3 separate regions of the Homo sapiens genome follow, and regions 2 and 3 are each linked to region 1. Evidence: fine-mapped expression QTL. A gene starts in region 1. Each other region holds a variant in brackets. All regions are shown on one strand. Distances are between the middles of the regions.

Evidence for each region. PIP is the estimated chance that this variant, and not a neighbour inherited with it, causes the effect.
Region 2: its variant is fine-mapped to the expression of SEL1L3 in putamen (GTEx, PIP 0.95).
Region 3: its variant is fine-mapped to the expression of SEL1L3 in whole blood (TOPMed, PIP above 0.99).

The regions. Positions count from the first base shown.
Region 1 is chr4:25,858,606-25,868,941 of GRCh38, reverse strand. It overlaps SEL1L3 (SEL1L family member 3), which reads left to right and starts at 5,954. Exons shown (of 24, transcript NM_015187.5): 1 at 5,954-6,267. The coding sequence starts at 6,106. It overlaps LOC102723733 (a long non-coding RNA gene), which reads right to left and starts at 7,815. Exons shown (of 2, transcript XR_427503.5): 1 at 6,789-7,815. It overlaps LOC124900688 (a long non-coding RNA gene), which reads left to right. Exons shown (of 3, transcript XR_007058092.1): 3 at 3,536-3,734. RefSeq lists silencers at 5,721-5,880, 5,931-6,390, 6,661-6,955.
Region 2 is chr4:25,450,713-25,461,048 of GRCh38, reverse strand. The region is part of intron 3 of LOC105374536 (a long non-coding RNA gene); the gene reads right to left. Among named protein-coding and RNA genes, the nearest start is that of ANAPC4, 79 kb to the right of the region's middle. RefSeq lists enhancers at 3,979-4,478, 9,913-10,336. The variant C/T (reference allele first, on the strand shown) is at 4,276.
Region 3 is chr4:25,910,104-25,919,389 of GRCh38, reverse strand. SMIM20 (small integral membrane protein 20) reads right to left here and starts at 5,170. Exons shown (of 3, transcript NM_001145432.3): 1 at 4,968-5,170. The coding sequence starts at 5,076. LOC105374538 (a long non-coding RNA gene) reads left to right here and starts at 5,304. Exons shown (of 3, transcript XR_925502.3): 1 at 5,304-5,379. RefSeq lists enhancers at 4,925-5,054, 5,125-5,224, 5,334-5,883 and a silencer at 5,265-5,444. The variant C/T (reference allele first, on the strand shown) is at 5,979.

The DNA.
Region 1 (10,336 bases):
TTCATTTTTCAAACACATGTTCTTCTCAACACCCTCACTCAAAGATCAAAGATTGAAGATGTGCTTACATCTTTTCTTCTTTTTCTTTTTCTTTTTTTCCAGGAGTCTCGCTCTGTCACCCAGGCTGGAGTGCAGTGGCACGATCTCGGCTCACTGCAACCTCCGCCTGCCGGGTTCAAGCAATGCTCCTGCCTCAGCCTCCGGAGTGGCTGGGACTACAGGTGCACACCACCATTCCCAGCTAATTTTTTTGTATTTTTAGTAGATACGGGGTTTCACCATGCTGGCCAGGCTGGTCTCAAACTCCTGACCTCATGATCAACCTGCCTCGGCCTCCCAAAATGCAGGGATTACAGGCGTGAGCCACGGCACCTGGACCCCAAGATGTCCTTACATCTATGGACACATGCCCTTGATCTTCTGCATCCTGTGTACTTTCCTTCCCCAAACACCCAGTATACAGGGACTTCTGTGGTCGCTGAGCCTGAAATCCCTGCTTCTTATCCTGATACCCCCCAAGGATGGCAGAAGTTTCTGCAACTATGGCGGTGGGGCAGGATGCAGACCTGGGTATGAATAAGGAGGCCCTGGACATCTGGTTGCACCTGCCTGGAAATGTTCAGCTCACAAAGCTTTCCCTCAATGGCCCAAGAGAGCCAGAGAATGGATTTCCCTGCTGCCCACCTGGACACTGCACAAATAAGTCGTGCGCTGTCCAGAGAGCTTATGTCAGTAGCTGCTGCTTAAGGGGGAAAGCGCTCCTGACACAGGGGAGGGCTTGGCTAAGGGAAGCTGCCCGCTTTTTCCCCCAGCTCAGGGTGGGGGAAAGAATTGAGCTGAATATGCACCTATTCAGAAGGGCAAAGAGCCAAAAATAACCAGGAGCAACAGCATTTCATCTGACAGGCCCAGAAATAGAGCTCATTTTGGAGCATGCCTGGGCTACAAACCGAGTGATTCCAAGACCTTCAGCATCCCATAAAAATACACGGAAAAGCTTTCAGTTTACACAGATGCTTCCTTTTCCTCCTTTACCACAACTTCCCAAGGCAAGGGCTCTGTGGCCCATAGGGAAAGAGTCTGCAGAGTCAGGGATTTGAGGCTCAAAGGATGGGGTCTGAGGATGAGGAGATGAGGCTGGTATCTGATGGGATGTTCTATGGAAGGAAGAAGCAAGAAGTAACTGTTAAACATGGAGGATTTGAAACAAGGAGAAACAGAGACAGGAAATAGATTTAGGGAATGTAATGGCTAGGGGGCCACAAGAAAAATGGAAATACTGCCCATAAAACAATGGCATGCAGGATTTGTCTAGATCCCAGAGGTCACCTTTGGCAGAAAGAAAGACCATGGTTTTCCTATTGGGATGGGGAGTGTGTTGCCTGACAGCAATCTTCTATTTTTGCTTTCCTCTCTTCTATTTCTGCTTTCTTCTCTTTTATTTTGATATAAAAGGCAAATGTCACGGTTCATTCATCTTCATTCTGAATAACTGAAATTACAGGAAAGAGGGAGGGGGAAGAAAGGAGAAGACTGCAGAATTACAGAGAAACCTGAGTGTGGAAATAACCATGTTCTAACAGGAAGAGACTGGGGAGACAACAATGAATAAAAAAAGAAAAGAAGGAAGGGAGGGAGGAAGAAAGATGGAGAGGAAAAAATGAAAAAGGAAGATGTTGGATTCAACTTTATTCAGTGAATATGTCAGAAATGTTCTATGTACAAGGCATGGGGGTACAGAGAAACGGTTAAGAAATAACCCCTGCTTTCGGGGGGCATATAGTCTACTGGAGGAGAACAGGCCAACTAACATACCCAATATAAGGCAGAGTTAGCCAGTGGCCACTTAGGATTACAGGCAATGCCTGCTGGGGGCACAGAGAACCGACCCATTGCGTTTCGACCTGAGGCCATGAGGGAAGATTCCCTAAAACTGGCAGCATTTGCCTCGGCCTCAAAGATTTATGTGGGAGGGTAAGTGGATGGAAGGAACACTCTCTACTCCTGCAGAATGCCTTCCTACCCACCTCCTGTAATCTGGAGGTCATTTGTCTCCGCAGGGGCAGATCTCTTTGCCCCAGACATCCTTAGTATATAGAAATGTGGTTACCAACTGCCGACATGGACAGGGCCACTCCAAAGGTAAGTTTTTACTGATCCACAGCAAAATGCAACATATAAAGACAAGACGGAAATAAAATATTCAGATTAAAGAACAGCTTGTTTTTTGTTTTTTTTTTTTTTAAGACAAGGTCTCACTCTGTCGCCCAGGCTGGAGTGCAGTGGTGTGATTAGACCTCAGTACAGCCTTGACCTCCTGAGCTCAAGCGATCCTCCCATCTCAGCTTCCTGAGTAGCTGGGACTGCAGGCACACACCACCACACCTGACTAATTTTTGTATTTTTAGTAGAGACAGGGTTTCACCATGTTGCCCAGCTGGTCACAAACTTCTGGGCTCAAGTGATCCACCCGTGTTGGCCTCCCAAAGTGCTGAGATTACAAGTATGAGCCATGGCACCCAAACCAGTCTTTTCTTAGGATGTTAGGCCCTTCCTAATTTTTTGATGGCAAAAGGCCTTGTCTTTTTAATGAAATGATACTGACAGAAGATAGTATATGCAGTTGGTTTATAAAAACTATTTTTGCTTGGTAAAGTAATAGTTGACCAAGTGCATTGGTCCCCGAGACGTGACTGATCTTAAACCATTTTGGGCCAGGCATGGTGGCTCACGCCTGTAATCCCAGCACTTTGGGACGCCTAGGTGGGTGGATCACGAGGTCAGGAGTTCAAGACCAACCTGGCCAACATGGTGAAACCCCCATCTCTACTAAAAATACAAAAATTAGCTGGGCATGGTGGCAGGTGCCTGTAATCCCAGCTACTCTAGAGGCTTGAGGCAGGAGAATAGCTTAAACCCAGGGGGTGGAGGTTGCAGTAAGCTGAGATCACGCCACTGCACTCCAGCCTGGGCAACACAGTGAGACTCCGTCTCAAAAAGAAAAAAAAAAGAAAAAAAATTTCAGAGTCTCAGAACATCTCACCTGGAATGCTATGATGTGCCACCTAGGCATGCAGATGCAGTCCTTTCTCCAGCCCCTCCCTCCAGGCCTCTGAAGTCTCCTCCTAGGGGCGGGCCATGATGAGCTCAGGACTCTGTGCCTTTGTCCTTTCCCGTGTTGAGGTGTGGAATTGGTCCCTTTCCAAGGGCATGTGATAAACTGACTCACACCAAGGCAGTAATAAGGGAGGCCAATCTCCCCCTGGGGCCTTCGACTTTTAGTGGAGTATTAAAACTTAATTTAAACTGATGAATTGTAATGGTGAGATTTCAAGCCCTTCCATGGGACAATGGGAAGATATATTTCTTTTTAAATAAAGGGCTTTCTTCTGAAATCAGACCACGCCCTTTCAATGACTGACACAAACTGCTGGAGAGACGCAAAAGTAAGAGCTGATTCTGTCTTCTGGATCAAAACGTCCCACTCCCCCGTGAAAAGAAATCTTGACTTTTTCTCTCCCCCTCTCCAACACAGGATGAAGCAGTTAATCCCACCACCTCTAGCTCAGGATGAGAGAGCAACTCACACATCCCTCTTAGAAGACCAAACTCTGGCCGGTTTTCTGCATGCCTGGTGCTCCTTGCAGAAACAGAGCCTTCCTGCCTACCTCTGGAATCCTGGGGCCTCAGGTGGTGCCCAGTCCACAGTAGGAACACAATAGGAGATGAGTGAGTAGGGGAGAAGTGAGCAGTTGGATATGGCAAGTTAGAAACAGTCCAGCCTCCAGTGGGGCACTCTGCTTACCTACACTTAGGTAAACCCAAATCCTCAAAGCTCACAAGGCCTTGAAAACTCCCAATTCCATGAATCCTGATTACAAACAACCCCGAGGAACCATTTAGCTCCCCGAAGACCAACAGAATCTGTGTACAATGTGGGAGGAGAGAAACTCCGGAGCGTGGCCCAGGAAGACAGGTGGCAACCCTAGAAATGCTGCAATGCCTGTTGAAGCCCCTTCCCCCTGAACTGGCCGACAATTTTCCTTCCATATACATTAAAAGCATAGTCTGTATTTTGACCTGATGGAAAAGATATAGACAGGATCTGGGACAAAGCCACCAAATCTTTTGTTCCCTTGGACACTCGATAGAATAAATGTTTTCCACGTCACACAGAAGAATGTTAAGTGCTTTGTTTCTGCAGAAGTGGAACAGAGATAGTGGGAGCATCTGTCAAAACCCCCAAAATGCTTTAATGTGGTGGCAGCTGGCTGGGAGGAGCAGGAGCCCAGTTCCCTAAAAGCCAATAGTTCTGGAAATGGAGGAGGGCTGTTTGAACCAGCGCGTTAACATCACCCAGGAGCTTGTTAGAAAGGTACATTCTCAAGTCCCTCCCAGGACCAACTGAGTCAGAAATTCTAGGGCTGAAGTCCAGGAATCTGTGTTTTAACAATCCCTCCAGGTAATTCTGAAGTTTGAGAACCGGTGGAATAAGGCCAGGGAACTCACACAAGGCCACAGCTCTTAGGTGACCTAAAAAAAAGTGGACGACAGCTGAGGAGCCACCATGCCTGGTGTGGCCAGGCCTGTACTGAAGCAGCTGAGGGCGCGTCCACGCCCGTCAAACCATCCCGGGCACCCCGTCTCACCACCAGCCTCTCCCCGACGTCTGTTGTGACTTGACCTATGCTCGTGGCACAGGGAAAGGGCTGTGGCCTCTCAGGCTCCCAGGCTATTATTAGTTCCAATCCGCACAAATCTACCAGTGCTAAAGGGAAGCTTCTGCGAACTTTGGAAGGTGGATTAACTGTTTCAGAGCAGCAGCTGCGGGCCCAGATAGTTGTCGGAGCCGCTAGACACAGCCAAGCGCTTCCCTGAAAGCCAAGGCCGGCGGCGAGCTGGTGGTCCCGCCGGCCGGAGGCCCCTCCCCGCCAGGCCGCAGAACCCGGGTCGGAGAGCAGCCAGTCTCAACCTGCGTCCCCAAGGCCGAGGATGTGTCCTGGTTTTTTAAAAAGCTGTTTGCGCACTTCCAGGGCCTCACCCCTTTCATTTGGGGCTCCAGTATTACTGTATTGACCTAATTAATTCATTTTTTTCTCAGTCCAAAGTGGAAGCCGGAGCACAGGGATGCAAATCAAATACAAACCCGTCCTGGGTGCCAATACTCTGGACAATTAAAACAAAGAGCGCAGTGGTGGCGGTGGCGGCGGCACCACACAAAACCCTCGGGAAACATCCAGAACGTGCCGCGAACCAGCCGGCAGGGTGGGGCGCAGCCCGGCTGCAAACATGCCAGCAAGGAGGCAGTCCCAACCCCGCAGGTGGACAGGTGGAGGTTGGCAGGGGTCAAAATCCATCCTGAAGGCCTGGGAGCCGGGCAGCTGCGCGGCACAACTCCAGGGGGCACACTCGCCCTGCGCCCTGCGGGAATGGCGCCCCGGCCAAAAAAGCAACCAGACAAAAACCCATTGCACGGGCGGGAACTGGTCTGTGCGACCCGCAAAAGGGGTGGGTGGGAGAGGAAGAATGCGGAAGCGAGGAAGAGGATGGGAAGGGAGAAAGAGGAAAGGGAGGAAAAGGAGAAAGTGAAAAAGAGAGGGGGTTTGGGAGCGCGAGGGGAGAAGGAAGAGGGAGCCGGAGGGAGAGGAGGGGGATCGCAGAGAGCAGGAGCGCGGAAGGGGGGCGGGGGAGGAGCAGAGAGAAAGGGAAAGGGGGGTGCGCCGGGGCCCAGCGACCCGGGCGGGGGGTGGCGGCGGCCAAGGGGCGGGACCCGGGTCGGTGCCCACCTGCGTGGGCGCCCGCTGCTCCGAGGGGTGGAAGCCCGGGGGCCAGAGGGAGCGGCCGGGAGGAGGGCTGGGCAGGGAGGCAGAGGGGAGGGAGGGGACGGGGACGGGGAGGCGGGGAGGAGCCGGCGCTCGGCTGGGGCTGCGGGGGCGGCGACGGCGGGAGCGGCAGTGGCGGCGGCGGCGGGTCCGGAGGTGGCGGCAGGTGGCCCCGCGCGCGGCGGCCGGCCCGGCCGGGGGCGGGCGGGAAGGTGGCGCCTCGGGCGGGGGCCGGTCCCTGCACCAGGTGACCTGTTCCGGCCCGGATCCGGGCGGCCTCGCCATGCAGCGGCGCGGCGCGGGGCTCGGGTGGCCGCGGCAGCAGCAGCAGCAACCCCCGCCGCTCGCGGTCGGCCCCCGGGCCGCAGCCATGGTCCCGAGTGGCGGCGTCCCCCAGGGCCTCGGCGGCCGCTCTGCCTGCGCGCTGCTCCTGCTCTGCTACCTGGTGAGCGCCGGACCCTGCCCGGGTCTTCCCCTCCGCGCGGGGCCCCGGGGACGCGGGTGGGGGCGGCCGGGGACACCCGCCACGCGGGGCGGGGACGCCGCTGCTAGTTTTCTCTCTTCCTCGTCGCTGCGCCCCGGGCGTTCCCGGCACCTGGGATAGGTACCCCGGGCGTGGAGAGGGGCGCTTGGACCGGACTTGCCAAGCTGCTCTCTCGCTCGTGCTCATTCCTTTCCCTCCTGGACTCTCTCTAGACCCGGGTCGGGTTACCCTCGAGACCCCTTCTTGTCCTCGACTCCACCCGGGAGCCTCGCCGCCCGGAGTTCGCTCCCCGCCCCGCCGCGCGCAGTCTCCAGCACCCCCCAACCCCCCACCCCTCCTGGGCTTCCCTCTCAATCTTCTCGCAGCTCCTTTCCTTCCCGTGCCCAACTTCGCCTCTTACTCTCGGCGCCCGCCACCCGCGTCGACCCTCCTTTTAGTTTCCACCGGGTCCTCCCGGCCCGGACAGTTTTCTGCCAACGCACCTCGCATCTCCAGCGCTCTTCAACTCCTCCTTGGTCACTCCAGCCAAGTTGCGGATGCCGGAAAGAAATCTAGTTCTCTGTAACACGCTTACCGCCAGAGTGGTGACTTTAGCTGCGTCTTGAACATTGTCATTTCAGAGAATATGTTTGGCTCATGCATGTCAGTTTGCAATTTGCACACTTCTTGGCTTCTGTTTTAGTCATCAACTAAAGGGCAGTAACCTATTTTTCAAAACCCATTTATTTTAAATACCAGAGTAGCTGAGACCCCTCAGAACAAAGTGGGGAGAAATTTTCTCAGTTCCTTTGAGGGCTTGCTTGCTTCTGTTTTGAGTTCTCCTAAACAATAGTAAATTTACAGAAGGCGACACCCTTCCTGCCCAGAGTAACTTATGTTCCACAATCCTGCAGAAACCTTGGGTTATCTCGCCATATATTACTGTAAATAAATGAAATGGAAAATGCTGAATCATGAAACTGATGTAATAGGAAATTCACAGAATGCCAAAAAAAAAAAAAAAAAGAGCAGTGTCATTGTCCAGAATTCATTTCACTTATGTGGCATTGTCATTATTTGGAGTCTTTCTTTTTGGAAGCTAAAAACTGCTTAGGAGATACTGGCAGAAATTAGAATTTGATTCTGAAGAAATTTGCCACTCAGCCCGTTTCTTTTAACGTTTTTTACTTCTTGAATGTTTCATTTCTTGAAGCAAGAAGGTGTAAAAATGCAAATTATAATTCTGCCTGTGCATCTACCTGTTGAGCAATCCGTGCTTTTACTCATATTTCAGAATTAGCCAATATCAAATTGTGTGGTTGGGCTTACTTCATATTTTCATAAGAAGTTGTCAGTTAACATGAATGATATTTTTTTGCCCAAGAGATATTATTATTTAATATTTATGCCACAAGGTTACAACACACAGGCTCATAAATAAAACTGCCATAACAAATGACAAGATTTCAGTTTAAACAGATGATCCCTGTACACAGGGCCCTGCTGGCTACCCACAGAAGCAGAAGTGATGTAGTAGAGTGTTGCGTGAAACATTCATATACAAATGGGCCGGGCCGAAAAGTTCCACGTGGACATCTCAAGACCTGGCAAGGAGGGGGACTACTTCTGGACAGTTCAGGAAGTCAGAGTCAGGAGAGCAAAGCCTAAGGGCCTAAGTGGACTCTGGAAACAGAGACAGATAATGATGGAGCAAGTATTCCTGTGAAAGTTCTGTGTACACCAAGGGGGATTAAGAGAACAGAGGGAAAAATGATGCCATGGATAGACTCAAGTGAGATAGTGAAGGAGTGAGGAAGGGCTCCGGAAAGAGTAATTTTAGAAAATACTGTGATGTGGAAAATAACTAGAGCATGGATGAATGTCTTGGCAGATGGGGAAGGAATGGATTTGGGGACCTCATGGTGGGGGGAAATGTCAGTGCTTCCTGCCTTTGTATGCTTCCTTCAGATGGACTTCTGATACGCTTACTGTACAAGACAGACTTTGATAAACAAGAGAGCCATTTTGCAAAGGACACAAAAGGCCGACTTAAAAGGTAGTCTCCACATTTTGTTCTGAAGATCTAGCCGTTTACTAGGGATGTTGCTCTTGGGTCTACACTACCCAAGATACTACTGAAGGCAAGGCTTCTTGATCTTGGAGAAGCTTGGTGTGAGAATTGGGGAAAATGTAAATATCCATATGAAACACTTGAAAAACATAAAACAATAGAGAGAAAACGCAAATGTATAATTGTGTGCATTTTGCTCAATCAAGGAATGCTACCTGGAGGAAGTGGTTGGTCAGGGGGATGGGGCTGGGCAGGTGCAGGGTAGAGATGGAGCAGAATAGCTGGGCAGGATCCCAGGAATATGTAGACTCTAGAGGAGGAAAGGTCTTTCATAATTTGAAAGCCTACATGGTAATAACGATAGCTTACATTGTGCTATACATTGTGCTAAATCGTTTATAGGCATTATCCAGTATTTATCTTAGCAACAGCCCTCTGAGGTAGGAGCTACTATAATCTCCATTTAGATGAGATAACAGAGACTCAGAGAGGTTAAGTTAGTTGCCCCAGGCCATACAGTCTGAGATTGAAACCCAAATCTGTCTCCCTCCAGAGCCCCAGCTCTAAACCACACTAGCTTATTGTCTTCTGGATTTTGCTGCTTGTAACTCATTCTTCATCGATGTACGGGCCATTAGCAGAGCTCTAGCAATTAGCAGCTACTGTGCAATTGGCCAGGATGTGAGGTCATGTCTAAAGTAATCTAAAATATACAAAGCAGGAAGCGCAGGCCACAGAATAGAAGCAGGATGTTAAAGTGGGGAAGAAAGGTAAAGCCAGAAAATATTTGCCATCGTTAATGAAGAGATAAAGGTTTGGGGTTTTTATGTAGTCCAGAGGCAGCTGGTAGAGTTTAGCATTTGAGTTTGGATGAATGTGCATACAAGTGTACAGCAAATGTGCCTTGGAATGCATTCCAAAGCCAAATTGCCTATGATTTGGGGACCAGTTCCTGTTTTGTGTTATCTTCACCTATTTGCCTGTTCACAAGGGCTGGAGGTTGAGAGCAGCTTCTGAATAGATGCCTTTAAGCACCTGCCCTCACAGGGAGCATGCTTCCTGGAGTCAGGGTCCTGAGGAGTGGGTGCCTTCCGTCTCCATAGGCTGGGACGGAGTAACCTTCAGTATCAGCTCAAAAAGAGTACTGTGTCTGTAGCTAGGATACTGCCAAAGCATGAATAATTGTGATGAGGGCTGAAAGATAAGTCACGGAACGATGCCAAACAGATTTCTGAAAAGATGATCCCTGGTTCCAGTGGCTGCCAGAAAATTCTGAGGTCACCAAAGGCCAAGATGCAGAGAGCCTCCTCAGAGAGGGAGAGGGCCTCGAAAGCAAAAGATAATGAAATTGCTTCCACTGAGGTCGCGGGTGCTGAGTACTGTGCCCCACGCAGAACTTTCCCTGCCCAACGGGCCTTCTTGCTATTTTCTTACACCATTAACTCTTACCTTCTTCCAACTTGGCTAGAACCAGCCTGAGGCTGCCCCAGCTCTCTATCTGTGATAATGGCACTTCCAGAAAACAATTTTGTTCGTTCTAAGCTCTGGTCTCCAAAGTATAATATTTTCTTATATGAAAAGATAAATCTCAGGATGGCCAGTATTGATGTCAGCTGTCAGTTGAAATGTTCGGAGTGGATAGCTGCACTTGTTAGACAATCAGACTGAGGACAAAGAAGTAAGAGGACATTAACAGCACAGAGGCTGGGCGCGGTGTCTTACGCCTGTAATCACAGCACTTTGGGAGGCCGAAGCAGGCGGATCACGAGGTCAGGAGATCGAGACCATCCTGGCCAACATGGTGAAACCCCATCTCTACTAATAATACAAAAATTAGCTGGGTGTGGTGGCGTGCACCTATAATCCCAGCTACTTGGGAGGCTGAGACAGGAGAATTGCTTGAACCCAGGAGGGAGAGGTTACAGTGAGCTGAGATCGCGCCGCTGCACTCCAGCCTGGCGACAGAGTGAGACTCTGTCT
Region 2 (10,336 bases), 410 kb after region 1:
TTCACCATGTTGGCCAGGCTGGTCTCAAACTCCTGACCTCAGGTGGTCCAACTGGTTTGGCCTCCCAAAGTGCTGGGATTACAGGTGTGAGCCACCGTGCCCAGCCTCTTCTTTTTTTTTTTTTTTTTTTTTTTAGAGACAGGATCTCACTATGTTGCCCAGGCTGGTCTTCAACTCCTGGGCTCAAGCCATCCTTCTGCCACAGCCTCCCAAAGTGCTGGGATTGCATGTGTGAGCCACCACACCCAGCTAAAAGGGCATTTTTAAATAAATAATTACAGCTAAATTTCAGGCATGCACCACCATGCTTGGCTAATTTTAAAATTTTTTTGTAGAGATGGGGGTCTCGCTATGTTGACCAGGCTGGTCTCAAACTCCTGGGCTCAAGCAATTCTCCTGCCATGGCCTCCCAAGTAGCTGGGATTATAGGTGTGAGCCACCATGCCCAGCCTTTTCCCCTTTTCATTTGTATTCCTTTATTTATTTGTGTTTTCTAATTTGGTACAAAATATGAAAAAAATCTGTGGAGTTTTGTTTCTTTGTGTCATGTAGAAAATGAAAAAGGAGGGAAGTAACAAGGAAGACAAAATACACCTTTTAATGTCAACACTGTTTGGTGTTTATTTGGTGACCCTGAGGGCAATTTTCATTCTCATTTCTTTTTCTTATTGATGTTTCCAACCCTTTCAACAGTGACCATGTGTTGCTTTTGTAATTACAACAACAAGAATCCCTATACACAAAGCAAAAAACATATAGTTTGTCTTGTTTTTAAGAAACAAAGATTAAACTACACTAAAATACAAGGCGATTATCTCTGAATAAGTTTTGGGGCAGTTTTTTTCACACTCATCTCTGCTTTCCAAATTCCAAAGATAAAAAGATACTACTTGAATAAGAAGAAAAATAAAGGGAGCTGTGTTTCACGCCTTCCCTCTTCCCTTTTTCCCATCCTATCTAATATCCCATGAGGGTCTCCAACTTCAGCAGGAGCTAAGAGCCAAGAGTCGTCTGGGAGATGACTTTAGTTTCTTTCTCTCCTTTCTTTTTTATTGTGTGGTGAAGAAAGAAATCATAATCTGACGCCTAAAGAGGATTTCACCTTTGCTCTTGGTTGGACTCTAAATCACATTAGGACAATTAAAAAACCACAATGAGAAACATCTTACACCAGTCATGATGACTACTATTAAAAAGTCAAAAATAGGCTGGGCATGGTGGCTCACTTTGGGAGGCCAAGGCGGGCGGATGAGGTCAGGAGTTCAAGACCAGCCTGGCCAACATGGTGAAACCCCATCTCTGCTAAAAATACAAAAAAAAAAAATTAGCCAGGCATGGTGGCAAGCACCTGTACTCCTAGCTACTTGGGAGGCTGAGGTAGGAGAATCTCTTGAACCCGGGAGGTAGAGGTTGCAGTTAGCCGAGACCATGCCATTGCATTCCAGTGATAAGAGTGAGACTTTGTCTCAAAAAAAAAAAAAAAAAAAAAGTCAAAAATAACAGACATTGGTGAGAATGCTGAGAAAAGGAAACACTTATACACTGTTGGTGGGAATGTGAATTAGTACAACCTCTGTTGGAATGAGTATAGAGATTTCTCAAAGAACTATCATTTGATCCAGCAGTCCCACTACTGGGTAGCTACACAAAGGGAAAGAAATCATTATAACAAAAAGATACTTCCATACATATGTTATCACAACACTATTCACAATAGCAAAGTGATGTGGGTTGATGTGGAATCAACCTAAGTGTCTGCCAACAGATAACTGGATAAAGAAAATGTGGTCTATCTATATATATCAGAAAGAATAAAAAAGAATAAAATCTTGTCTTTTGCAGCAACATGGGTGGAACTGGAGGGCATTATCTTAAGAAAAATAATTCAGAAAGTCAAATATTACATGTTCTAACTTGTAAGTGTAAGCTAAATAATGAGTACACATGGATATGGAGAGTGGAATCATAGACGTCGGAGACTCATCAGCCTGTACAATATGGTGAAACCCCATCTCTACTAACAATACAAAATAATAGCCAGGTATGGTGGCGTTAGCCTGTAATCCCAGCTACTTGTAAGACTGAAGTGGGAGAATCACCTGAGCCCAGGAGGCTGAGGTTGCAGTGAGCCAAGATGGTGGGACTGCACCCCACCCTGCATAACCAGAGTCAGACCTTGTCTCAAAAAAGAAAAATAGTAAGACGCTGGAGATTCAAAAAGGTGGGAGGGTGGGATGGGGGTGAGGGATGAGAAATTACCTAATGGGAACAATGAACACTATTCAGCTGATGGTTATACTAAAAGCCTAGATTTTGCCTCTATGAAATATATTCATGTAACAAAACTGCACTAAGTCTATAAAAATAAAAATAAATGAATAGATAAATAACATTGGGGAAAACATTCTTCATGGAGTTTTAAAATTCAAATCAATACATTTTTTTCCCAAATAGATTGTAGAATCTTTGAGAGAAGGAACTATTTCCCAGTTGTTTTGATATGCCTCATGCAGTCTATTAAATTACCTGTGACAGGCAAACAGGGCTTCATCATTCACTCAGCAAACCTTTCTTGGAGGCTGCACTGAGCACCACCAATTCAGTGAGATCCTGGGAAATGAAGACCAGGCATGGGCTCTGCCCTAAAGGGTTCTCCCCTCCATTGTCTCCCATCTTTGTGGAGGAAACTGATCAGATGGATCCAAAAATCCAAGCTCGCCTCCTACCCTCACCCCATGGGAGGCCAGGCTCTATCCCTCAGTGAGGATTGATAGAATACAAGCAGAAAACTGGCATTCTAATAGAAAAGACAAAATGCTCTAAGAGCATCCTTGTTGATACGTGGGATCCTGATTAGAGTCCTCAGTGAAGCTCCCCAAAGGCAACATATTACTCCTGCCATGTACCATATGGGAAAACTAGGAGGCAGTGGCTCAGATACCAGAGTCCCGATTACTGGGGGCCTCTAGCATAGCTCATTCATCGTTGATCCTTTCAACAAATGTTGACTTATTACCTACCATGGGCCAAACACAGACTTGACTCTGGAGGCACAAAAATGAAAAGCTGGCAGGGTGCAATGGCTCACACCTGTAATCTCAGCACTTTGGGAGGCCGAGGTGGGCGGATCACGAGGTCAGGAGTTCCAGACCAGCCTGGCCAACATAGTGAAACCCCATCACTACTAAAATACAAAAAACAAACAAACAACAACAAAAAAAAAGACAAAAAAAAAACAAAAAACATGAGAGGCTGTGGTTAGTGAGAAGAGAAAAAGAATACAAGCAAGGCCAGGTGGGATGGCTTGCACCTGTAATTCCAACATTTTGGGAGGCCCAGGTAAAAGGATCACTTGAGCCCAGTAGGTTGAGGTTTCAATGAGCTATGATCGTGCCACAGCCTGGGCAACAGAATAAGACCATGCCTCTTAAAAAAAAAATCATGCAAGCCAACAATTATGCAATATGAAAATCCCTGGGAAACAGATGGGCCAGATAGCAGAGAGATTGCAATAGAGGTGCAGGAGGCTTCAGACTCTGGGGCTGTGACAGAGTCTAGCACAAGGAAGGAATGCTATAAACATTTGTGGGAGAAAAATGAGACAACAGACTTGGAAGATGAAGTGGAGGCAGGGGAGGGAGAAGGCATCCAAGCCAGAGGAAGCATTGTGTGCAAAGAGAGATGGAAATTCAGAAGAACCACAGGGGCTAGGAGAGAAATTCAGGGGAAAAAGCGGTAAGGAGGAGAGGCTTAGCAGGGTCCGGAGCTAGATTGTGAGGAATCTGGTACTCCAGGAAGAGAGATTTCACTGTGTCCTGTAGGTGCTGGAGTCACTGAAGAATTCTGAGAGAGGAAGTGACACATCTAAGTTGGGAGAAAGTTTCAGGAAATGAGTAGTCAGTAGAGGAGTCAAAAAAAATAAGGAAGAGCTTTAGAATTCCCAAACATTGGATTTGAAGGATAGGAGGTGATTGGGTCATTCTGGCATCTGTGAGGGAAGCAGGGAGGGAGTATTTGGGGAGGGGAAAAGCTGTAGCTGGGAGACAGGTAAAGAGGGCATTTATTATAACAGGGAAGGTGAAAAGGGCCAAGGTCTGAACTAGGGCGGGGCAGTGTTGACAGAGAGGAGGGGGACAGATGGGCAAGAGATTTAAGGGCCAGAATTGACAGCATTTGGTGGCTCATGGCATGTAGGGAGTAAGGAACAGTGAGGACTAAGATAAGACCCTGGATATGGCCATGGAGGAGGGAGCCACTATGATCCTTGACAAGACA[C/T]ATTTCTAGGTAGTGGTATGGGAACAAAGGATAGCTTAGGGTGCATTCAAGAGAGAATTGGAGGACAAGAAGTGGAGACAGCTGCTTCCAGGAGTTGTGTTAGGAGCAGAGACATAGAGCCACAGCTGGAGGCTGCTGGGGTCAAAAGCAGTTCTATATCTTAAAGGTGGGGGGTTTTATAGGACACTTGTATGTTGATGGGAATGAGCCAAAAGAGGGAGGGAAACTGGTGATGCAGGAAAGAGGAAGCCCCTGCAGGGTGAAGGCAAGCAGGACTGGCCAAAGAAAGAGTGCAGAGAAGTCATGGGTGGGGAGGCAGAGAGTGCAGATGTGTGGACAGGAGGCTGGCAGGAGCATCTTTTCTGTTGGCGTCTATTTTCTCAGTGAAACAGAAGGCTACATTATGAGCTGAGAGTGAGGATAGGAAGGAGGTGTTGGAGGTCTAAGGAAGGAGGAGAAGGTATGTTAGAGCATACCAAGAAAGGGAGCAGGGCCTGAGCAGTGACAACCAAGAGAGGGAGCAGGGCCTGGGGGGTAATGCATCCAGAATGGAGAAAAAAACAGTGAGCCAGGTGCCTGCGGTGCCCATGGATGCATGTGGGAATTACCAGGAGGTCAGCAAATGACAAGGACAACAAGAGTGCAAGGGGGCAGGGTATTGTGGAAATGGGCAGAGCCCCAGTGGAACTAAAAATCCCAATGAGGAGCATGGGGATTATACCTGCTCTAAGCTGGGTTGTTGAATGCAGAGAAAGAAGCTCCCTCCTCTCAAAAGAGCTGCAGGGTAAATGAGGTCCTCAAGCTAGAGTCTGGTTTCCCTTCGGGTTGGGAGGTGGAGAGTTGAAGGGAGGGTCAACAACTGGGGAGAGACTCCAGAGGCCACCATGGGAAATGTTGGGAGTGAAGTCAGCAGTTACGGGAAATCCATTGACATGTTCCTTTCTGATTGATACAAAGGATGCTTTCCTTTCCACTTTTGCAACCAAAGCCAATATATATCTGTTGAATGAATGATATGAATGGAAGAGTGATAAAATTATAAAAGGGGTGGGTCCTGGGTCATCAAGGGTCATTGCTATGGTTTGAATATGGCCCCCAAAGTTCATGTGTTGGAAACTTGTTCATGTGTCACATCTCAATGCAACCATGTTGAGAGGTGATTAGGCCATGAGGTCTCTGCCCTCACGAATGGATTGATGCCATTATTGTCAGGGCGAGTTCATTACTGGGAGAGCATACTTTTTATAACAGTGAGCTCGGCCTTCTCTTGATCTCATTCTTACTCCCTTTTGCCCTTCTGCCTTCTGCCACTGGATGACACAGCATGAAGGCCCTTGTCAGATGCCGATGCCATGCTCTCAGACTTCCCAGCCTCCAGAACCATGGGCCGAATACATTTCTATTCACTATAAATTATCTAGTCTGTTAGTATTCATAAAATGGACGAAGACAGTCATTTAATACCCTTTTCTTCCTCAAACTAAGAACTTGTCCCCCAAATAAACCACAAAGCTCTAATCTCTCCCTCCTCAGGAGCACCAAGATGAGGCAAAACTGCGTCTGCCATTGATGTGCAACTATCCCCCTCTCTCCATCCCTCTCTACACATACACAGGGCACCAAGTCTTACTGAAAAAAAATAACTCATCCAGACACAGAAACTGAGAGCACCTCCTTGCCTTCTTTCCTGGAGAGCAGGCTAGGTATTTCCATCTGAGAAAATACACAAATGTCAAGAAAGAACCAAGCACTGACAGCAGCAAACACAATGAGAGTGACTATTTACATAGTTCCATCAGGCATTAAGATGGTATTAATTTTCCATCTACTTCTGGGTTTTAAATGCCTAACCCCTGTCCTCTGTCTCCACCTTATATAGCCGGAGATTTTCACTGTGTCTAAATCTTATTTGCATCTGCCACCCTTTATTTCAAATCACTGAGACCTGGGGCCACTCACATCCTCATAGCTTTGCTCTGTGTGCCACAAGCATGATGCAGCCTTTCCCTAGCCAAGCCCTGGCAAAGAAGCAGCACACAAGCACCCCAAGAGAAAATAAATTCTCTCCAGGCTGCAGGATAGGTGCCAGATTCCTAAGTTTATCAGCAAAGCCCAGGTGTCCTCTTTGCTGCCTGGCCAGTTGACAAAAGCAAAGAAGAGTGTTAGCCATGGTTCACAATCATCCAAGAGGCTTTGGAAAGAAGAACTGGTACTGCAGTTGTCTGATTGTCTACACCTAACACGTAGATAAGGTTCTGCTGTCACTGCTCTTCAGAGGAAGGAGAATCAAGTGATCCAAGCCACTTGGCGTACTCAGAGGAATCAGGAAAAGCAAGAATAGAGAAGTCCATTCTTCTCACTGCAAGAACCCCCAGGTTCTGGGGTAGGTGGATTGAGTTCAAATCCTGACTCTACCATCTGTGTGATTTTGAGCAATGATGTAATTCCTCTGAGCATCAGTGCTCCAGCCTGTAAAATGCACATGTTAACTGCACTCACCTACTCACTGCTCAGGGTGGTTGTAGTGATTCCATTGTTAATGCAAACTAAGCTTCAGACACCAAAAGGGAGATATTCAATCACTGTCAGTCTCCCTCCTTTTCCTGGTAGTTTGTATTTATGATGACTCTAAACATCACTGATGGAATTTGAGTGCAACCACGCTAGAAATAGGTTTCACATAAACTGAGGCACCTCCTTCGTACATAGGAAACAGGAAATGATGGCATAGGAGATGAAAGAAATAGCTCTCCAGGCCTTTCAGGGGTCCTCTAGCAGGCAAACAAGGCCCTTGAAGATCTGCCTCAGTTTCCTCTTTTTTTAAAATTTTTTTTTTTTTTTATCAGGCAGCCTTCAGAATCACAGCAGATTCAGAGAGACTCCAGCTTCCTCTCAATACACTTTGGCATCCCTTGCACTTAGTGACTGGGTTCTCCTGAAGGCCAGTGCCCTTTCAGACCTCTAAGCCTTTGCATATGCTATTCCCTCTACCTAGAAAGCCCTTCCTTCTCTTCTTCACCTGGACATCCCCAACTCATTCCTGAGAACTAAGCTCAAGGGGCTGTCTCGCCTCCAGGCATCCTTCCTGGCCCCAGCAAAGCTGGGCTGGGTGTTCCTCCTCTGTGCTTTCTACTGTCCCAGTGCCCCGTGGAAACAGGATCATTACATGGCTCCTTGCTGCTCCATCGCTCCACCAGACCAGGAGCCCTGGAGTCAAAAACTGGGCTTCATTTACATATTAGCATTTCCAGTGTCTGGCACATAGAAGCCACCCAATCCATGTTTGGTTCAGTCATTCGACAAGTATTTACTGAGCAGCTGCTAGTAAAGCCTGACACACGGATATCATGGCAAACAAAAAGTCAAAATCCCTGCCATCATGAAGCTATGTCTAGGGGACAGATGATAAAAATGGAATCGAATAAGTATATTACAAGTCGAGTGCCAAGAATAAAAACTATCTTTGGCTAGAGTCACAGAAAATAATAATAACAATAATAATAATAAATAAAAAATAAAGCAGGCAAACAGGGATAGGAAATGTCTTGGGGAGAGGGGACAGCTATTTTATGCAGGATGGTGACAAAAGGCGGGAAGACAGGTGGGCATTTGCACGCAGCCTGGAAGAGGTGGGAATGGACGTGTGGACATTTGAGGGATGCACACTTCCCAGATTCACATTCCAGCTCTGTCACTTATTATCAGTGTTTTTATTTATTTATTTATTTATTTATTTATTTATTTATTTATTTATTTTTGGAGACAGAGTCTCGCTTTGTTGTCCAAGCTGGAGTGCAGTGGCACGATCTCAGTTCACTGCAACCTCCACCTCCCAGGTTCAAGCAATTCTTCTCCCTCAGCCTCCCAAGTAGCTGGGACTGCAGGCGCCCACCACCACTTCCAGCTAATGTTTGCATTTTTAGTAGAGATGGGGTTTCACCATGTTGGCCATGCTGGAACTCCTGACCTCAAGTGATCCGCCTGCCTCGGCCTCCCAAAGTGCTGGGATTACAGGTGTGAGCCACCGTGCCCGGCCCTGTGTGATTTTTAAGGACATCTCCTAACCTCTTTATGCCTCAGTTTCCTCATCTGTTAAATGGGAATAGTAATAGTACCTACTTCATAGAATTGTTGAGAGGTTTGAAATTGTGGTAAAATTTTTGAAATTGTGGTAAAATACACAAAATTTACCCTCATGACCATTTTTAAGTGTACAGTTCAATGGCATTAAGTACACTAAATTGTGCAACCATATCCATCTCCAGAATTCTTTTCATCTTGAAAAACTGAAACTCCATTAAACACTAACTCCTCAATCCCACCCCATCCCCGAGACCCTGGCAACAGCCATTCTACTTTCTGTCTCTGTGAGTTTCACTACTCTAAGTACCTCGCATAAGCAGGATCATATAATATTTGTCCTTTTGTGACTGGCTTATTTCACTTAGCATAATGTCTTCAAGGCTCGCTCATGTTGTGGCACGTTTCAGAATTTCCTTCCTTCTAAAGCTGAATAATAGTCCACTGCAGGTAGATACGGTATATTGTTTATCCACTGATCTGTCGTGGACATTTGGGTTGTTTCCCACCTTTGGGTTATTGTGAATAATGTTGCTATGAACATGGTGTACAGATATCTCTATCTTTCATTCTTTTGGGTATATACCCAGAAACGGACTTCCTTGGTCATATGGTAGTTCCATGTTTAATTTTTTGAGGAACCAATTACTATTCTCCACATTAGAGGCACCAACTTACATTTCACCAACAAGGCACAAGGGTTCCTATTTCTCCACATCCTTGACAATTGTTATTTTCTTTCTCTTCTTCTGTCCTCCTTTCTTCCTTTATTCCCTTCTTTCTCTTTCTCTCTCTCTTTCTTCCTTCCTTTGTTCTTTTTTTCTCTTTCTTCTCTTCCTTTTTTCTCTTTCTTTCTGTCCTTTTCTCTGTCTTCCTTTCTTCCTCTTTTCCTTGCTTCTTTCTTTTCCTCTCTCTTCCCTTTTCCTTCCTTCTTTCATTTTATTTATTTATTTATTTTAGAGACGGGGTCTCGCTATGTTGCCAAAGCTGGTCTAGAACTCCCCAGTTAAAGCAATCCTCCCATCTCAGCCTCTCAAAGTGCTGGGATTACAGGCATGAGCCACCAAGCCTGGCCTCTTTTTCTTTATTTCTCTCTTTCCTTCTCTTCCTCTCTTTCTTTCTTCCTTTCTGTCTTCCTCTCTTTTTCTTTTTTTGTCTCTCTCTGCCCCTCTTTTTCTCCCTCCCTCCCTTCCTTCCTCCCTTCCTTCCTTCCTTCCTTCCTTCCTTCCTTCCTTCCTTCCTTCCTTCCTTCCTTCGTAGCCATCCTAGTAGGTATGTGTTGAAAGGTTTTGGTGAGTTATTTATTTATTTATTTCCGAAACAGGGTCTCACTCTAGTGCCCGGTTGGCATGCAGTGGTGCAATCACACCTCACTGCAGCCTCAACCTCCTGGGCTCAAGCAATTCAAACTGCAGTATCACCTGAATCAGAATCACTTCAGACAATTGTGTTTAAAATGCACATTCCTGGGCCTCGGGACAATGGACTCAACAGCGGGAGCCCAGAAATTGGTATTTTTTACAGATACCTCCCGGGCCTCTTCTGTACAGAGAAGTTTGAGAAAGGATAGGCTAAAATATATTTTCTGAAGGTGCCCATCTCTCTTCCCAAAACATCTGTGGCCCTGAGAACCCCTCTGTCCCCAGGTGGGGAGGATGGAGACTTCAACACAGCCTGTGGAGGAGGCTGTGAAGGAGGAAACAGCCCAAGAACGGACATTTTGGGGCCAGGAGGGAGCCGAAGGGCTGGCGCAGTGGATGAAATGGAAACTATGTCAGAGGGTGGAAAGGGGGCCTCGGGGCAGGAGCCACGTGACAATTAGGAAGAGAAAAGTGGTTGAGAGAGAGGACATATGCAGGTGAGAGGGAGCAAAGAGCCTGTCCTGGGGAGGAACAGCTGCTGGGAGTCAGGACGAGGGCAGCCCCAGGGAGAGTGGCCTAGTGGAGCCAGGGAGACCTGCCTTCAACCCCAGCCCTACGGC
Region 3 (9,286 bases), 51 kb before region 1:
TAACAATCTGGTGACAGAGCAAGACTGTCTCAAGAAAAAAAAAAGAAGACACAAAATGAGGTGAGAAAAATAAATGCAAATATATCAGTAAATAGAATAAATGAAAATTAATCCAATCCAATAGTTAAAAGAGCTTATCAGGTTGGATTAAAATATCTAGTTTATGTTGGTTTTAAGATATTCACAGGCCAGGCGCGGTGGCTCACGCCTGTAATCCCAGCACTTTGGGAGGCCGAGGCGGGTGGATCATGAGGTCAGGAGATCGAGACCATCCTGGCTAACAAGGTGAAACCCCGTCTCTACTAAAAATACAAAAAATTAGCCGGGCGCGGTGGCGGGCGCCTGTAGTCCCAGCTACTCGGGAGGCTGAGGCAGGAGAATGGCGTGAACCCGGGAAGCGGAGCTTGCAGTGAGCCGAGATTGCGCCACTGCAGTCCGCAGTCCGGCCTGGGCGACAGAGCGAGACTCCGTCTCAAAAAAAAAAAAAAAAAAAAAAAAAAGATATTCACATAAGGACAAAGTCTGCGTGTATAAGGAGAGAAACAGATAAGCTAGGAAAATATTAAAAGAAATCTGGGCTGGGAGCAGTGGCTCATGCCTGTAATCCCAGCACTTTGGGAGGCTGAGGCAGGTAGATCACCTGAGGTCAAAGAGTTCGAGACCAGCCTGGCCAACATGGTGAAACCCCGTCTCTAGTAAAAAATACAAAAAAATAGCCAGGCGTGGTGGTGGGCACCTGTAATCCCAGCTACTTGGGAGGCTGAGGCAGGAGAATTACTAGAACCTGGGAAGCGGAGGTTGCAGTGAGCTAAGATCACACCATTGCACTCCAGCCTCCAGCCTAGGCATCAACAGCGAAACTCCATCTCAAAAAAAAAAGGAATCTGGTAGCACAATAAAATCAGATAAAATAGAGATGGGGAAGAACAGTGGAGATAAAGATAATTCTTATATAATGATAATTAGAAAAAATTATCCAGAATTTTCTAGATTGTATGCACCTAATAACATGGCCACAGGACATCCAAATACAAACAGAATTAAGAAGCTTGATCTGTAATTAACATACACAGATACAGAACTCTGTACCCAACAAGAGAACAGCCACCATTCCAAGCACACAGGGAATATTTACAAAAACTGACCTGGGCCAGGCGCGGTGGCTCACGCCTGTAATCCCAGCACTTTGGGAGGCCGAGGCAGGCGGATCACGAGGTCAGGAGGTCGAGACCATCCTGGCTAACACGGTGAAACCCCGTCTCTACTGATAATACAAAAAATTAGCCGGGCGTGGTGGCGGGCACCTGTAATCCCAGCTACTTGGGAGGCTGAGGCAGGAGAATGGCGTGAACCCGGGAGGCGGAGCTTGCAGTGAGCAGAGATCACGCCACTGCACTCCAGCCTGGGCGAAAGAGCGAGACTCTGTCTCAAAAAAAAAAAAAACAAAAAAAAAAAACTGACCTGTACCAGGCCCCAAAGCAAGTCTTGACCAGTGTCAGAGAATCAAAATCATATAGTCCACATTCTCTGACCATAAATGCAAATAAGATAGAAACCAGCAACCAAAAGTCACCAGAAAAGACCACTGTGGCTGCTAGGTAGAGAATGGGTAGTAGGTGGGACACAATGGAAGCAGCTCAGTCCCAGGAATGGGTGGAGCGAGGTGGACAGGACAAGGGTAGGAAGAGCATGATGGAAGGAAGTGACTGACCATGCTGTTTGGTTAGGTGCAGTCCACACCCAGCACAGTGCCAGGCACCCAGCGATTGCTAGAATCCAGGTTTCTTCTAAAAAAGAGAGTGCTAAATAAATGCTAGTTGAATGTGTTGGAATGAGCTGAAGATCCGACCACACAGTGGGTTTCCATGACCTGATCATGAACACCTCATCCCAGTTTACTGCTAGGTCAGCCAGCTCCAGGCCTATCCACCTGCTAAAATCTCCATGTCTCACATTCCTGCCCTTGTGGCTCATTATTTTGTAAACATTTTAATAAAATATCTAATATAAGACTATAGTAGGTGTTTCCACACCTGTTACCCCATTTAATTCACCCCAAACCCTGTAAATTCAATCCAGTGAACTACACTGCTACAGATGAGGAAACAGGCAGGGCTCAGAGAAGTGAAGTAACTTAGATGAGGGTCATTCATCTAGTAGGCTATGCAGACACTCATCTCCCCCATTGCCTTTTCTTGCCCCCTTAGACAAGCAGTATGCTGTCTTGGTTTAGGGATTAAGGATATTAATTCAAGTCCCAGATCTGTGACTCATCAGCTGTAGGTCCTTGTGTAAGTAATTTAACTGTTTCACACCTCAGTTTGTCCACATATAAAATGGGGATGATGATCATATAGCAGCTGCCACAAAGGGCTGTTATCAACACTAAATGGGTTAATATATAGGAAGTGCTTAGAAGAGTGCCAAACATATAGTAAACTTCCCACAAATATTACCTGTTCAGCAATATTTACCTGTTTAAAAGAATCAGTTGCTGGCACTGAAGGCGAAAGCTGTGTAAACGCTCTGCCCATTACAAATGTTACAGCAGTCAGTTTGTAACACTAGCACTTTGGGAGGCTGAGGCAGGAGGATCGCTTGAGGTGAGGTGTTTAAGACCAGCCTGGCCAACATGGCAGAATGCTGTCTCTACTAAAAATACAAAAATTAGCCAGGACTGGTGGTGCATGCCTGGATTCCCAGCTACTTGGGAGGCTGAGGCACAAGAATCACTTGAACCTGGGAGGCAGAGGTTGCGGTGAGCCGAGATCATGCCACTGCACTCCAGCCTGGGCGACAGAGGGAGACTGTCTCAGAAAAAAGAATCAGTTACGATCCCCAGAAAAGAGTTGGCCAAATTAATCAAAATGGAACCAGAGGCCAGGCGTGGTGGCTCACACCTATAATCCCAGCACTTTGGGAGGCCAAGGCGGGTGGATCACCTAAGGTCAGGAGTTCGAGACCAGCCTGGCCAACATGGTGAAACCCTGTCTCTACTAAAATATACAAAAATTAGCTGGGCATGGTGGCAGGTACCTGTAATTCCAGCTACTCAGGAGGCTGAAGCAGGAGAATTGCTTGAACCTGGGAGATGGAGACTGCAGTGCGCCGAGATCAGGCCACTGCACTCCAGCCTGGGTGACAGCGGAAAAAAAGAAAAAAAAACAAAAAGGAACCAGAAAAGTGGGAAGGCACAGACTGCCTGCCTTCTAGTTAAAAATGCAGATATTATAGTTACATTCACTAAATGTTCACCCACAGATGAACATCACCTGATTTGTCTGTCTCAAGACATTCAGACAACCACAGATTCTGGAGTATCCCTAAAAGACTGTTGCTGGGATACACAGTACAAGTCCCCATCTTGACCATTTCATCTCAAGCAGGGTTTCTCAACCAAGGCACCACTCGAATTTTAAGCTGGGTAATTCTTTGTCATGGGGGTCTGTCTTGTATGCACTGCAAAAAGTTTAGCAGTATCCCTGGCATCTATCCACAAGAAACCAGTAGCAACACTCGACCCCCCCCCCGCCCCATCCCAAGTTGTGACAAGCAAAAATGTCTCCAGATTGAGCCAAATATCCTGCGGGGCAAAATCACCCCTAGATGAGAACCACAGCTCTAGTTTTCAGAACTGACTTTTCCAATGGGATGCAAAGCAGACCCTTTGTCCCAAGTTCTAGTGGCCTCAATATAATCGCTGGGGCAGGCGTCCGCTGAAGAAGGATGGTGGAAACAGATCCCGCAGGGCTTCACACAGCCCACCTTACTCCCACGCATGGTGCATGCAGATAAGCTGGAAGGCAGAACACAGTGGCCATTTCAGTCTTGGCTAATGAAAAGAAGCTACAAGGAAATCTGAGTGTGCACTTAAAACGCTCTGCCTCCAGAAATCGACTGCTGCAACATTTGTAATGGGCAGAACATTTACACGGAGCTTTCGCCTTCAATTCGCCAAGCTTTCAGTGTCCGTTAATATTCCCAAGGGACAGGGTTGGCCCTCTTCCATCTTCAAGATGATTCGGGTTTCCTGGTGAACAAAATGAGCCTCTAATGCCTAATATTTTCTGTCTGACAGATGGTTTCAGATGTATCAAAGTGCTAATCCTTGCTGAGGTATAGGTCTCAAGGAAGAAGAGTTTGGCTTTTAGAATGATAGGACTGGAATGATTAAGAAGGAAAATTACTCCCAGGATTTCACCATTACCATGTGAGCAATCGGCTTAAAACGAAGGAAACAAGCAGAATCGGAAAAACAATTTGAGGAAAAAGAAGAGAAAACACTACAAACCCCAGGTTAACAGTTTGGGTTTGAAACAGTCCCACTCAAAAAACATCTTGGGGAGTGGAAATGAAGTGCAGTAAAAGCACCTTTCCACTCAGAAGGATCAGGGTTCCATCTGGCTCCCCCAGTCACCATTCTCAGCCTGGGTGCTTGGAGGAGGCTCTGGACAGAGGCCTGGGGTTGGATATATTTGCCTTGTCACTTACTTGCTGTGTGACCTTGGGAACGTTATAAAACCTCTGAGCCTCTCAGTTCCCTCATTTGTAAAATGGGCATGTTTTACATATATACTTCAAGGTGAGCTTGTGCAAATGAAACGATCCAACATATGCCTAACCTGACGTGTAATAGGCATTCAGTGAATTTTAACTGTAAATATGAACTGGTACTTAGCGTCGACTTATGTGAGGACTGCTTTCATATACATGATCACCTGAGTCTCACAGGAGGCTCGGCATTTTAGCATAGATGACGTAGCCACAAACATTCACAGATGAGGATACTGAGAGTCCTAGAGGTTGAGCAACTTGTCCACGGTCACAAAGCTGCACATGGCAGGATTCGAACCCGGCTCTCCCTAACCCTCGAGCCAAGTTCTTTCCACGGCACCACGTGGAGCTCACAGAGGGGAGGTGTGTGTGTTGGGGAGTCAGGTCACCGCAAGGGGTTAGAGATCACTCACTGTACTCCTCCAATCTCATTAGGGGCCGGAAGTAGATGGGATAGAAGGCGGCGCCGATCAGGGAGATGAAGCCGCCGAAAATGAGCGCGGTGCGCAGGTTCCGGGACATGGCGTCAGGCCCCGGGCTGCCCTGACCCGCCGACCGCCCGGCACTCTCGGAAACCAGGTTACCGACGGCCGGGCCGTGACCCCGCTCGGAAGAGGTGGAGAGGCTTTCGCTTCCGGGCCTTGAGGGAGGGACGAGGAGGAGGGGCGGAGCGGAGAAAGAGACAGGGGTGGAGTCAGAGGCGGGGCCTCAAGGCTGGGGGCGGGGCCAGGAAAGGGGTGGGGTCACAGGCGGGGCCTCGGACCCCGCCCTCCGCCTTCCCCGGGATTCCGTGCTGTGCGGGCCGGGCGCTGGCGTTGGATTGAGGTTGGAGCTGTTTTGCTGCACTCGATTCCCGCGGGCCCTGTTCTGTCTACTTTCCTTCCTTCGGCCCGGTTCCTCCCTCAGCACCCTCCAGACCTCCTTTACCATCGCCTTCTTTACCAGCCAGCTTTCTCGTCCATCCCCCGTTAATTTCTTAATTAGCGACTGTCCGCCGTGCGCCAGATGCTCTCTGTCGCTCGCGCAATTAATCCTTTTATCAGTCTGCTTAGTTTACAGGAGAGGGAACCGCGGCTCCGCTGCGCGGCTTTGGACGAGTCACTCGTCCTTCTTGAGGGAGGTTTGTACGTATCAGAGACAAAGGGGCAAATCTCTGGCCCGAGAGGGCCTGCTGGGGGATTCTAAAACCGGAGCTGCGGGGCTTCTGCACCAAGACTAGCCTAGGAGGAACGTTGTTTCAGCATCCGAGCTACTCTCTTTCTCCATCCCATCCTCTCTCCCTCCATCCCATCCTCTCTCCCTGTTCCCTGTGCTGGGATGCCTTGGCCAAGGCAGAGAGCCAGCATCCGGTCCCATCCATGGGGCCACGGGGCGCTTCCGTATTGTCTGGGTGGGGGCCACCGAGAACAGATACCTGTTTCCTC[C/T]TCCTCAAGTTGCCATCCTCCGCCCTCTGCACCACACTGCCCTTACAAGTGGGCTGTGCCTGACTATGACCTGCCCAGGGATACTGGGCAGCTGAGACACAGATTCCTTGGGCCTCCATGCCTTTATAAATAGGAATCATGCCAGCAGCTGGGCCTGGGGAGCAAAGAGGATATCTGTCTTGACCCTAGCAGCATTATTTAGGCCACAACAGATCTACAAGCGTTTCAAAATAGCTTGGAGAGGACAGGTTTCCTCTTTCTTTGTAATCTTGTAGTTGCATCAAGCTACTGTCTACCTCTGTGGCTCTAGAAGCATGTAAATCAGTTATTCAATCTCTCCCCAGATTCATGGACTATCTGCCATGCCCCAAACACCAGGCAGAGTGCTAAGGGGACACAAAGATGAATAAGATGTGACCCCTGCTCTCTAGGATCCTGTCGCATAGATGAAGAGATAGAACATATCCATAAAAAGATAACTAATGACCGACATTGCGTGCTGCCGACACGTGTTATGGTCCTGCGGGCTACAGAAATTCAGAGGAGGAAGACAGATGACTGCAGTGTGGCAGCTGCTCCTCGGGCACTTACAGGAGCTTGTTAGGATGAGGACAGAAGACTTCATAGCACAGAGGGAACTGTGACACCAGCTTTATATCACACGATAGAAAATACCCAGGTGAGGGCTGTGGACAGTGGCTCACGCCTGTAATCCTAGCACTTTGGGAGGCTGAGGTGGGTGGATCATGAGGTCAGGAGTTCGAGACCAGACTGGCCAGCATGGTGAAACCCCGTCTCTACTAAAAATACAAAAAAATTAGCCGGGCGTGGTGGTGCACGCCTGTAGTCCCAGCTACCTGGGAGGCTGAGGCAAGAGAATAGCTGGAACCTGGGAGGCAGAGCTTGCAGTGAGCTGAGATCGCTCCACTGCACTCCAGCCTGGGTGACAGAGTGAGACTCCGTCTCAAAAGAAACAAAAAACAAAAAGAAAGAAAATACCCAGGTGTAGTGGGCATCGTCGTTTTATCAGCCCTGTGGCCACTTCCCTTTTTTCTGTGAATAGTACCCCAAGTATCTTTCTGGGACCCACTCTTTTCCCACTCTTGGTCCATGAGATAACCTAGGACTCCCCATCCTCATCCTACTTCTTCCCAGCTCTGAAAGTTAAGCATAAGGGCCTGACCAAGCTTCCTCGTCACAGGGATTGGTTGGCACCCAGGACTCAGTCTTGAGGTTAGTATTGATTAGGAGTCAGTCCTGAACACCTAATGTAGTTGCATCCTCCTGGCCACATGACCCAAGCTGAGCCAACCATAGTCTATTCCAGCTACTGGAAAGTTGGATTTGAACTTGAGCGAATGAGACTCGAGCTACTGGGGGCCATCATTTAGGAACTGAAAAGGAAGTCAGTACAGCAGAAGGAGGGCTGAGAGGTGGGGAGAAATCAGATGCTAGTGTTGCATTTGTGCCAGCTGTATCTCAGAAGAGCTCTACCCCTAGACTGCTCAGTAACATGAGCAATAGAGTCCCCCTTTCTCTGAAGCCAGTTTGAGTTGGGTTCTGTCTTTTACAACAGAAGGAGTTCCAGATAAAATCTCTGAGGATGTGACTCCACTTGGAGCTGCAAGGCAAGGATTACTGAGCTGCAAGGCAAGGATTACTCTATTTTATAGATCTGGTCACTGACAGCCAGAGACCAGAACTCTCCTGAGGTCACACAGCATTGGCCGAGGTCTTAGCTCTTGTGATGTCTGATCTGAAATGCTCCTCCATGAGATCTTGCTGTCTCCATGAGCAAGCTTGGCAGGATGGCCAGCCAAGCCCTGCTCACGGGCACCTGCAAGCCAGTAAGGAGCGTTGCCAGGAGAACAGAGCATCGTGATGAGGTACTGGGAGTGCCTCTAAGGCAAGGACAAGTCCATTGTGGCAGATGAGCCTCTCCCTCTCCAAGGTGATGTGCCAAGTGACTCGTGGTTTCTCTTGTCTCCTTGATGCTGATCTAAAGGCGTTAGTTGACCAGCAGAAATGATTAGGCCATCTAGATCATTTGTATAGGTAATTGACATCAACACACCAGAAAACAGTTACCTATCACTTACTTGCCACTGAGTCCTGCCAAATGCAAGCTCATCTCTTTGATTCCCGTGTTTTCCCCATTTCTGAGAAAACCACACTCCTCCAGTTTTTCTTTTCCCTCTGACCTATCAATTAAATCAGCAAATACTTATTGTGTGCCTACTCCCATGCAAAACATTGTACTAGTTGATTGGGAACACAGAAGGAATCATTCAATATTTGTGAATTCAGTAATGGTTCATTGAGCCAGGCACAATATGCCAGATGCTTTTCAGGTGCTGGTGAACACAGCGGTGAGGAAAACAGCAGAATCTATTGTCCTCATGGTGTCCACAGTCTGGTGGAGGGATAAGATGTAGTAGAGGATAGTAATTGTTTTTTGGCCACCCACTGTGCCTTGATAAAAACTGATGTCTTTTGGAGAATGACCTCTTATCTTGGCATTTTTGGATAGACTGCAATTTCAGGGGCCTTGTGTATTCCTAATCAATGCTAACATCAAGATTTGTAGAACACTTGCCCTCTATAGTCAGTATCACAGGTTTGCTCACTTTGTGCTCACCAATACCTATGGATAGGTATCCTCATGTTCAGAGGGGGAAGCTGGGGCATACTGAGAATGACTTGATCACATGGCTGGTAAATGGTGGAGCCAGGATTCAAACCGAGCCTGGCTAGTTCCAGATACTGCTCTTAACCACCAATCTACAATGTTTTATGATGTCAGGGAGCTTGGTTGCCTGGGTGTGGGGATGATCCAGCTGGATCATTTGGTCCAATTGTTCTTTTTCTCCCAGAAATAAGGACGATGAAGACAGTGACGCAAAGACGGACAGCATTGTTGGAGTAGCTGTCTTCCATTGCTAATGTTCTGATGTGATCATCGTATACCTCCCACTTGCCTGTAATCCTGGAGCTTCCCTGGTTGTTTCCCCTTGCAGTCTGATTCTTGAGCGTTCATTATATTCTGCAGGCCACCCCATATGCTTCCAATAAAGTCCCTTTGGACTTAAGTTAGAGTCAGTTTCAGTGGCATGCCACCAGGAGTGCTAATAGATACAGAAATTAACACAATTACCTCCTACACATGGCATGGATGAAAGCACTTGGGGCTTCATCACTGTGCTAATGTTTGGGAAAGGCAAAGGAAGTTTGAGTTTGGGGGAACGTATTTGTGTAAAGGGAGAGAGAGCTCCAGGGATGTAGGGAGACAGGATGCAAGTCAGATATGT